Linked DNA regions of Homo sapiens: region 2 is linked to region 1. Evidence: fine-mapped expression QTL. Tissue or cell type: testis. Region 1 holds a variant in brackets; the other region holds the start of a gene. All regions are shown on one strand. Distances are from middle to middle.

Region 1 (5,393 bases):
AATTATCACTTAATGTTTCCTTGAAAATAAAAATGATGCTGATGAAAAACTGCTCTGACATTGCTTTTCCAGGTTCTAAACCTTCTATGCCTTATAAAATTAATCTATGAATTATTTGGGATCCTAGCAAGGAGAAGGAAGTTTTTCCTGATCGTCGACAAAGGAATATCCCTAAAACATGCATTTGGGTTCCTTTTAGTTCTAAATTCCAGGACTCAATCACAATGTTAACTTAACCTGCTTCACAGACGTTTCAGTTGCTGCACTTTAAAATGTACTACATCAGATTTTGTCAATTAAAAAATGCTTAGGTTTTCCAATACTGCTCAACAACTTGTTGAGAACAAATTTGTGGGGGCAAGGTGGGTGAAATAAAGTGTCAGTGAAAATACTCAACTTCTCCCTCAGGTGTAAAAATCTCTCAGAGAATTTACAGTTGAGCAACCTTATGAGATATCTTTGTTTGCTCTTTTGACTCAAGTTTATTGTAGGAACAAAAACTTCACTTGCATCATTTTATGGTCAGGTTTCTAAACACTTTCTATGTTTGCATTTCTTAAACCAACAAACTCTGCAATGCATTGTGGACACATTTTGTTTTTGTAAGATCTTTCTCTGCATTTAAACATTTTATCTTTTAGTTATACTTAGCTTTTATATATAAAAGTATTTGGAACTCAACAATATTGCCAACACATATCGCCCAAATCAGCAGTCAGCTATAGCCCGTCTTTTATTTCTGGATGAAGCAACCGAGGGGGCCTGGCGCAGTGGCTCATGCCTGTAATCCCAACACTTTGGGAGGCCGAGGTGGGTGGATCACCTGAGGTTAGGAGTTTCATACCGGCCTGACCAACATGGAGAAACGCCATCTCTACTAAAAATACAACATTAGCCGGGTGTGGTGGCACATGCCTGTAATCCCAGCTACTTGGGAGGCTAAGGCAGGAGAATCACTTGAACCCACCAGGCGGAGATTGCAGTGAGCCGAGATAGTGCCATTGCACTTCAGCCTGGGTGACAGAAGGAGACTCCATCTCAAAAAAAAAAAAAAAAAAAAAAAGCAACGGAGGGGCTATTTAGGAAAGAAGGAAAAATTGTTTTAAGAATAAATGTTTCCCAATAGTTTGCATATAATAAAATACAATGTCAAAGCCAAAGTGAAACTAAGGTTAAAAGGATATTCAGATTGCTATAACAGAAATATGCAGCTGTATATTAAAGCAGTACCATGTAATTGACTTCACTCTGTATTTCTTTCACACTCAAGCTTTATTTTTCCAGTGGTGATGTGAATTTTTACTATTCTAGCCACAAAATTCATTAATAATATATGTGGAGATTCCTGGCCAAGGAAGTTTATATAAAAAGAGGTTGTTGCAGTTTGGGAAAAGGATAATCTGACTTGAGATCAGCTCTGCCACTCAGCTGTGAGAACACAGTAGACTAATAACTAATAGTTATCCTCACAGAGCCTTGGTTTCCTTACCTGTAAACTATGCATGAAAACCATCACAGTGTGATCATGAAGACTGAATTAAATGAGCAGCTCCATGTGGAAGCTCCTTGAGATCTTTAAAACAATACAAATGTTAACTATTTCTGTGGGAATGGGAAAAATAGGGTTACTTTCTCTACAGTCTCAAACTCTTCCACCATCTAGAGCAAACAATTATCCCATTATTTTGTGGTTACCAACTTGTCAAGAAAAATGCATGACTCTAAAGTGGGTGGACAGCTAGTTCAGTTGGAAGAGGAAGAGGAAAAAAAATAGGGATGCTGCTTTCGGAGGAAAGTCAGAACAAAGCTGGGGTTTAGAATCCTGAGCAGTTTATCTGGCTTGGGTATATGCGTGGGGAGAACCTCGATCTCTTAGAGAAGTGCAACAGCACCCAAAGGCAAAGGGGTGTTGGGGGAGGACTGAAGACAATCTTCACTGATAGCCACGTTTTGCTTAGAATTTATCCTATCCTGTTTTTCCTTTCTTCTTGCTTTTGCTACTACTACTGCCATTTTGGGGTGGATTTAAGGAGAGGTAATTTCTTTCTTTCTTTCTTTGTAAATTATAAAATAATATGTAATTGTAATATCTATCTAAGTTATATATAGATAGACATAGAAATAGCTATAGCTATAGATAGATAGACATAGATACAGATAGAGAGAGAGATGTAGATATAGTAGAGGTTTAAGTGCATAGCCTTGGGAGCCAGACTGCCTGGGTTCAAACTCCACCACTACCATTTATTAGATCTATTACCTCAGACAAGTTACTTAGCTCTTCCTGTATCAAT[T/A]TTCTCATCTGTAAGTTAAGGATAACGTTAGTAAAGCCTTATAAAGTGATTTCGAAGATTAAATTAGTTAATGTCTGTAAAACACTTGTAACAGTGCCTGGCATTATACTGGATATCTTGAAAATGTTTTATTATTATTAGATGCAATCCCTATTTATTAATTGTAATATTATTTTTACTGTATTATTGGTTGTATTCTAGTGTAGTGTATAGGCTTCTCAAAATATCTCCATGCACATACAAATACACATATTTACAGAAGTTCAGTTTTTTGTTTTATTTTTTAACAGTAACAAGCTCATATACATATTCTTCTGCAACTTGCTTTTGCAACTATAACAGTATATAGTGGGGATCTTTTTTGTAACAACAGCATAATTGTGTCAGACACTGCTGTTGTCTGCACAGTATCTATTCTCCTATTTGTTTTTCATGAACTGAACCATAAATAGATAAAAATATTTATTTATTGGGCAATTTTTAAATCAAGAGTGGGAAAAGGGAACATACTCAGGAAACATATCCAGATAAAGGATCAGAAAAGGAAACACACTAAGTAAAAATAATGCTCCAAAGAAAGAGACATCAATAAAATGATTTGTCTCAGCCTTGGTGGTGATCAATAGAAAAAAAAATAGCATCCCTTAACAATTCAAGGACACTAACTGGCTCTCATATGGATTTGAGATCTGAAATTATTGAATGCTTAACAAATAAATAGTAAGGGCTTACTATGAGCCCAAAATCATCTTAGGCTCTGGGGATACAGCAATAAAAAAAAAATTCCTTTCCTTATGGAACTTTACTTCTAGTTGGGGAAGAAGAACATAAATAATTTAAACAAGTTATTTAGTATACTAAAAGGTGATAAGTGATATAGAGAAAAATAATGCTATGAAAGCTGCTAGGAAGAGCTTAAAACGTGTGCAATTTTAAATAAGATGGCAGGAAAGGCCTGAAATAGAGTTGAAAGGTGAGAGAGTCATGCAGATATCTGGGAGAGGTGGTTTTTAGCAGATGAACTGGTCAGTGGAAAACCTTAAGGTGAGCGTGTGCATGGCCTATTTAAGGAACAGGAAGCAGAGCAATGTGTGGCCAGGTAGGAGGACGCTGGGGAGAGGATAAGAGATTTGGTGGACAGGACAGCTTGGGAGAGATTGTGGAGACTTCTAAGTATTTTAAACATTTAAACATTTTTGTGATATTGCAGAAAAGCTAAAGACATTAATGAACTTTAGATGTTTTTAAATTAAGGATATATGTTAAAATTTCAAGGCCAACCATTAAAATAAAATAGCATGTAAAATTTCAAAACCAGTAGAGGAGAGAAAGCAGTTCAAATGAAGAAAGGAGAAAACCGAAAGAGAAAAACAAATATAAGGCAGTCGATTCAAATCTATGTGTAATCATAACTCAAGTGACCATATTATCAAACTGTATTCAAAAAACAACAACTATATGCCATTTATAGTAGAGAACATAAGCACACAAGAAGATGAAAGTACAAAAATATATACTGAGCAAATACTAATTAAAGGAAGGGTGAGATATAGCTATTTTACACAGATAAAATAGACTTTAAGGCAAAAATAAAAGTGGGCACTATATAGTGATAAAGTGTCCCATTCATTAGGAAGATATGAAAATTCTAATTCTGTATGTACTAAATAACATGATTTCAAAACATGTGAAGCAAAAAGTGAAAGAGTTGAAGGTAGAATTTGACAAATCAGTCTTAATAGTGATATTTTAAACATAACTGTCAGTAACTGATAGACTGTTAGGACAGAAAATATTTACTCCAATAATTAGAGATTACATAGTATTTTTAAGGACACTTGAAGAAATACATTATAAATTAAGTTATAACATTTCAAAGAATTAGTAAATTGAGAACCACAACTACCATGAAATTAATGTAGAAATAAATAACAAAAATAAAATGTTAGGACTCATTTGTTTTGGAATTAATAGAGAACCAAAACCTACAAAATAACTGATGGGTCACAGAAGAAATGACTAAAGTGAATAGAAGATATCTGTTATAAGGATAAGAAAAATATTACAAATTAAAACATGTGGAATGTAGGTAAAGCACTGCTTACAGAAAATTTATAGGCTTAAATTCATATACAAGAAAAGAAGCAAGAGTGAAAATGATTTGACTCTTAACTAAATAAGTAAAAAAAAAAAAATACAATAAGCCAAAAGAAAATAGAATAAAGGAAATTAAGAACAAAGCTTAATGAAATTGAATAGAAACTCAAGTCAGGCTTCAACTGTTCCTTGCAGCTACATTGCAAGGAATACGAGATTTTTTTTTTTTTTTTTGAGACGGAGTCTAGCTCTGTCGCCCAGGCTGGAGTGCAGTGGCATGATTTTGGCTCACTGTAACCTCCACCTCCTTGGTTCAAGTGATTCTCCTGCCTCAGCCTCCTGAGTAGCTGGGATTACAGGCGCCCGCCACCACACCCAGCCAATTTTTTGTATTTTTAGTAGAGACGGGGTTTCACTGGGTTGGCCAGGCTGGTCTCGAGCTCCTGACCTCGTGATCCACCCACCTCGGCCTCCCAAAGTGCTGGGATTACAAGCGTGAGCCACCACACCCGGCCATAGGAATACGAGATTTTAAGAAATCCTAAAACACACACGGAAACACGATACCATGAGTCAGATGCAGAAAATAAAATTGATAGCATAATTATATCCACAAAGTCTTAAGTTACTGAAATTATTAGAGATATAAAAAGGGTACTTAATAGGTTTAAAAAACAAGTAATGGTTTGAAATTATAAGCAAGAAACAAGAGAATATAAAAATGATCAAGTGGATTTTAAAAGATAATACAGAATCTTAAAATAAAAGCTCATAATAATTAAAATTTAATTATTTTGTTTAATCAATAAATGGCTAAGTTGAATAAATAGTTGAGTTGTATAATGAACTAAATAGTAAATTATACAAAGTTAAAGAGATTAATGAACAAGCCAAGAAAATTTTATAGAATGCAATAGACATGTAAAATATGTGAGAGAGGTTAGGAGATGTTGAGGATTGAATAAGAAGGTTCAACTAATGTTTACTAGGAGGTCTAGAGGG
Region 2 (5,393 bases), 22 kb after region 1:
ATTTACAATGTTAACTATTTTTAAGTAAACAGTTCAGTATCATTAAATACATTCACATTATTATGCAATCATTACAACTTTTTCATCTTCCCAAATTGAAACTCTACCCATTAAACAATAATTCCCCATTTCCTCCTTCCCCCAGCCCCTGGAAACCACCATTCTACTTTTTGTCCCTATGAATTTGACTACTCTCATATAAGTAGAATCATATAGCGTTTGTCCTTTTGTGACTAGCTTATTTTAGTTAGCACAATATCTTTGATGATCATCCATGTAGTAGCGTGTCAGAATTTTACTGCAAATGTTTTTATTGTGTCAGTTAAACTGTTCTGTGTATACACCTCTAATATACGTATCATATTAATGTATCATACATATTATGAAGCATGCACAACAATAAATATTTTCAAAGAGCAATACTGAAAAACAAACCTATTTTTTTCTTTGCACAATAGATTGTCTGTAAAATCTCCTGGGGTTTATATATTCCCCTCTTTGGGTACTGCTGCTAGCTATAGAAAAATGAAAAGCAATGAGGAGTGTTAAGCAAAGGAGCCATGTAGTTTGACATTCTGACCCAGTTTTTCACTGAGTACCCTAATCCAGGTAAGTACTCTGTAGTTAGTGATGACAAGGAGTTTTCAAAGACTAGATAATTCAGATAATCAGTTTTGTATTTTTAGAGCAGAATATTCTAGTGTTTCTGTGAAGTATGGACCTTATTCAATGCAAGTACATATCTTTCTAATTTCCAAGCACATAGAACATTTTGTTGAGAGGCATAAAATAACACAGCTACTGAAAAATACTTGTTGGTCACTGTTCACTTCAAGATTGCCGATGAATGTATTGGCAGAACTTACAGTTCTCTTGATGCTTGTGAGTATTGTTCAAAAGTTTATTAAAATCAGTTGATTTCTTAAGAGCAAACCATAAAACAGGTACTACTACTAAAAACTAAGGTTAGAACAGGAAAACTGCATGATGGTTGAAAAAGCCCTGACTTTGGAGCCAAGCAAACCTCAGGAAAACTCTGACTTCACCAGTTGCTATTAATAGCTATGTGACCACTGGGAGAATGCTTATACCTCTCTTAACCTCTGTTTTATCATCTATAAATATATGGCAATAACTTATTTGCAAAGTTGCTAAGAGCATGAAATGACGTACTGCACCTAAGTGCCTACTACAGATGTTCAGTTGGTGTTTGTACCTGCTCTTCCATTTAGAAATCCCCAAATACAAAAATTAGTATTATTACCTTGTTCCATGTATGAGGACCAGCATAATCCCTCTGCCTGGAATGGCTTCTGCCCCTAAAAGTCCTAATTGGATTTCAAGATTCAGATTTCAGTGTATTTTCTTTTGGCATTTCAGAGGTGCAATTAAGCTCTTTCTTATCATAGCTCCTATATTGCTTTATTTGTGTCTCTAATAATAATAACCACTTAATATGTGGTGGATGCCATGTTAGCACCCGTTCCCCTTAAAGGAAGGGATAAATTATTATTTCAGCTGCCGGGAGTGCAACCAGCAGATATGCCCTCTTTAGGAATTATCTCAGATGAAAGCACCTCTCAGGCCATGCCTTTTCCCAAGATAGCCACATCCCCAAACGTAAAGTGTGATACAAGGGCCCAGGTCCTTCACAACACTGGAGACAACTCCAAAAAATCATCTGTCTTCAGAACTTCCCTCAGAGTTGGCTAAAGCTTCCAATGAGACCACATCACAGCTCGGCCTCTCCCTGTGCCCAGGCTTATGTCCTTCCCTTTTCTTCCCCAGGTGGTGGTCACAGAATGTTGCCTAATAATTCCCCTCCACCCGAATCTCTATTTCAGAATTTGCAAGTCGGAAACCCAATTTGCAGTATACTTCAGGCCCTTGTTACATTACTGCAATAATTTGTTCACAACCTGTCTCACTCAGTGGGCTGGGTGTGCTTCTGATATTTTAAAAAACATTCTTAGGACCTAGTCATACCTGGCACATACGAATACCTAGCAAATATTTGTTGAATAAATTCATTTAAAAAGAGATCCTATTTTTCTTGGCCAGGAAACTCTTTCTAGTCTCTTCTTTAATTAAATTTATTTATTTATAATCTTTCTTTACAGAAAAAGAATGTAAAGAAATTAACTGAAAGTTAACTACCATTACATAGTGGGTAAGTGAAAATGACAGAATTGTAAAAGCAAGTATGTCATAAGGATCAATATAGTTGTAATTATTCACTGGATATTTTAAAGTCATTCAATAAATAGTCATTGAGCAGAATAACTGTATACCAGGCATTGCTTAAATGCTAAGTCTTTTTCCCCAAGGAGAATTATATTCAAATGACAGCAAAAGCCAAAAATAGAATGAAGTAGTATAATTTCATAGAGTAATAGATGGTATGAAAGCCACTGAGGGGGATCAGAACACACCATCCCTAAATATGCCACTTTGGGATACTGATTATTTTGAGCTGGAGATGCTCAATAGCAGATGCAGGAAGGGCTCTCTGCCTTTTCCTTTTTTACTTAAAAGCAGAGTGTAAATTTACCATGAGAAAAGTGCCCTCCCTGTATCACCAAGAAGGGAATATTCTCATCATCAGAGACAGGGAGTTGACACAGAGATGAATCTACACAAACAAATCTTACAAAAATAACCCTTATCTTCCATTAGCTTCTCCCATGTATTTCCTAGTCACTTTTCCACAATTTCTTTCCCCAACCCTAAACTCTTTTACTTTGGCTTTGTCATATCTCCACAATTTATGACCTTTGTTAAAATGTTATGTAAACCCCTAGGTCTAACTGCTTCTTTGAGGTTTTTACTTCTTTCTTCCTACAAAGCCTCCTACGACACATAAAAATGTTAACCTCAAGTAAAATGTGTATGCTTTTTCTTTTGTTAGTATGTCTTTTGTCTATACAATTCACAGGTCCTAGTCACAGAATTTAAGAGGGTAGAGGAAAGGTATTCCCTTACCTACATCACTTTAGGTCGGATGGTCAGGGAGGGACTCCCAAAAAAGACGAACAGAGACTTCAGTGATAAAAATCTGCTCTTGCAGAGATCTGGGGAAAGAAACTTTTCTATTCTATTCTATTCTATTCTATTCTATTCTATTCTATTCTATTCTATTCTATTCTATTCTATTCTATTCTATTCTATTCTATTCTATTCCATTCTATTCTATTCTATTCTATTCCATTCTATTCTATTCTATTCTATTATTCTACTCTATTTTTGAGACTCCAGGCTGGAGTGCAGTGGCATGATCTCAGCTTACTGTAACTTCTGCCTCCCAGGTTTGAGTGATTCTTGTGCCTCAGCCTCCCAAGTAGCTGGGATTACAGGCATGCACCACCAACCAGCTAATTTTTTGTTTTGTTTTGTTTTGTTTTCTTAGTAGAGACAGGGTCTCACCATGTTGCACAGACTGGTCTCAAACTCCTGGGCTCAAGCGATAGACCCACCTTGGCCACCCAAAGTGCTGGGATTACAGGCATGAGCCACCACACCCTGCCTCTATGGGAAAGAAACTTTTAGACAGACAAAATAGTTAATATAAAGGCCAGGGAACAAAAACAAATTTGACCCTAAGCTCCTAGCAGCTAAATATAGTAAATTGCTTGTTTTTATCTGGGAGGGGATGTGTTTTTATTCTTAAGGAGAGTCAGCTTTCCATTGAATAAAATCTGAGAGAGGTAAACAATGTCTTCATCAACCATTTCACAACAAACACAGAAGGAGAAATCTGTGATGGCTTTTTGTAGTGACACTGGAGACCTAACATTAAGAAGCATTCAGGAAAAACAGTTTCTGTGAAGTGCTATAATGACTCACAATACTTAGAGTAGTAGCTAGATGACATGACCTTTAAGTTTTCTTCTTTAAGTAAGAATTGTATGTCAGTCTAAGATTGCATCCTCTATCGAGGGCTTCAGTGCAGGTATCTTAGACTATTCATTTATTCTCTGATTCATTAATCAAGAAAAACATTGTTCAGAAAACCTTGGACAAAGTCTTAAATCATAGCACTCTGTGTTCCTGCTGCATTTAAGTTATGACTCACAATTTAAGCTGACTTCATACAATTCTACTGAAATATCACCTATCCAGATAAAAAGTTGCTTGTTTCCCACACATAATTCCATTCTTTTCATTTGCAAATGTATTCCCTCCTCTCATTGCTGTAGAATAGGACTCTCAGTTATTCTGATATATATTAAGTTTTATTGAGATGCAAATAAATGACAACAGGCATAAAATTAAAGAAAGATGAGTTTCAGTGTCAAGATACGCAATGAAGCAGGAAATGGAGATCATTAAGCTATTACTATAAGACAGTTTTGCTTAACCTACCTTTGTAATTTTGTTCCCCGACAACTAAACAAAAAAAGTATTTATTAAACAGTGACAGTCTGGCAGGGACATGCCACTATAAGTCAAAAGAAAGAAAATATATTCCAAAGTGAAAAACAGCAAGTTAAGCTTTATTATGGTAGCAGAGAAATGTCATCACATTACAAAACATGTGCTGCAACCATCAAATGGCTTTGACTTCTTAGTAAATCATATGTATAAAATACCTACTGAGTCAACTAGTTAAATTCATTCCATTTTGCAAATATTTCAAGCATGTGACATCTCAAACCCAAGGCCTACCACCTATTTTTCTCAATGATAAAATCAGAACTGAACAGAAGAGAAGTTGGGATTCAGTAACAGTGTGTGTGACAGCATCTGGCTAGCATAGCTCCTAGCAGATAACATAACACTAATACTCAATCTCTTCCTTCCCTCCCCTTCCCTCTTACTTTCACAACCTAGTATAGAAGAAGGGTTATATCCTGAAATAGATTACAGTCAAAAACCACACATAGCTGCCTCCTTTGTGGGACCTGGAGCAAGGATACAGATGGAGGCCAGCATACCAGATCTACATATTTAAAAGTTATAAATGAAGCTGGCAAACTATTAAATAAAATGTGATATTTCCTTCTGTCTTGATAAATATATTTTATAACAATCTGAAAGGCCAACTTCTAATTTAGATTTCTCATATCCCTCAGAGTTTTATGCCAAAATTTGGCAGGGGACCATGGGACACACGCACTCCTACCTAATCTTGAGGCTTGAATCCCTACTCTTCTCTCTACCAGCTTTCCCACCCAGAGGAACCTGGTAGACATGATCTGAACACTCCAGCATGATCAAGCTCCAGAAACACCCCCATCATCAATTGTGCCTTAGGCCTAAGAGCATGCACACCAGCAACCACAGTCTGCCCTTGAGAGCATGGGATAAGAAGCGGTCCAAGCAAATGTTGGAGCCAGTACTGAGGCCTGTTGAACAGAAAATTCCACAGTCTCAGAAACAGTCTAGAAGTGAAG

Which allele goes with the higher level. Positions count from the first base shown, and alleles are read on the strand shown. Sizes are in standard deviations (SD) of each study's normalised expression.
With allele T in place of A in region 1, the expression in testis of the gene that starts at base 3,039 in region 2 is lower (large effect, 0.89 SD a copy in GTEx).

What was found. PIP is the estimated chance that this variant, and not a neighbour inherited with it, causes the effect.
Region 2: ARHGEF38-IT1 starts here. The variant in region 1 is the best candidate, but not a certain one, in a credible set for the expression of ARHGEF38-IT1 in testis (GTEx, PIP 0.57).

What each region holds. Positions count from the first base shown.
Region 1 is chr4:105,581,397-105,586,789 of GRCh38, reverse strand. All of the region lies in intron 1 of ARHGEF38 (Rho guanine nucleotide exchange factor 38), which reads right to left. Among named protein-coding and RNA genes, the nearest start is that of ARHGEF38-IT1, 23 kb to the right of the region's middle. The variant T/A (reference allele first, on the strand shown) is at 2,295.
Region 2 is chr4:105,559,237-105,564,629 of GRCh38, reverse strand. It overlaps ARHGEF38-IT1 (ARHGEF38 intronic transcript 1), which reads right to left and starts at 3,039. Exons shown (of 3, transcript NR_046840.1): 1 at 2,983-3,039; 2 at 1,265-1,328. All of the region lies in intron 1 of ARHGEF38 (Rho guanine nucleotide exchange factor 38), which reads right to left.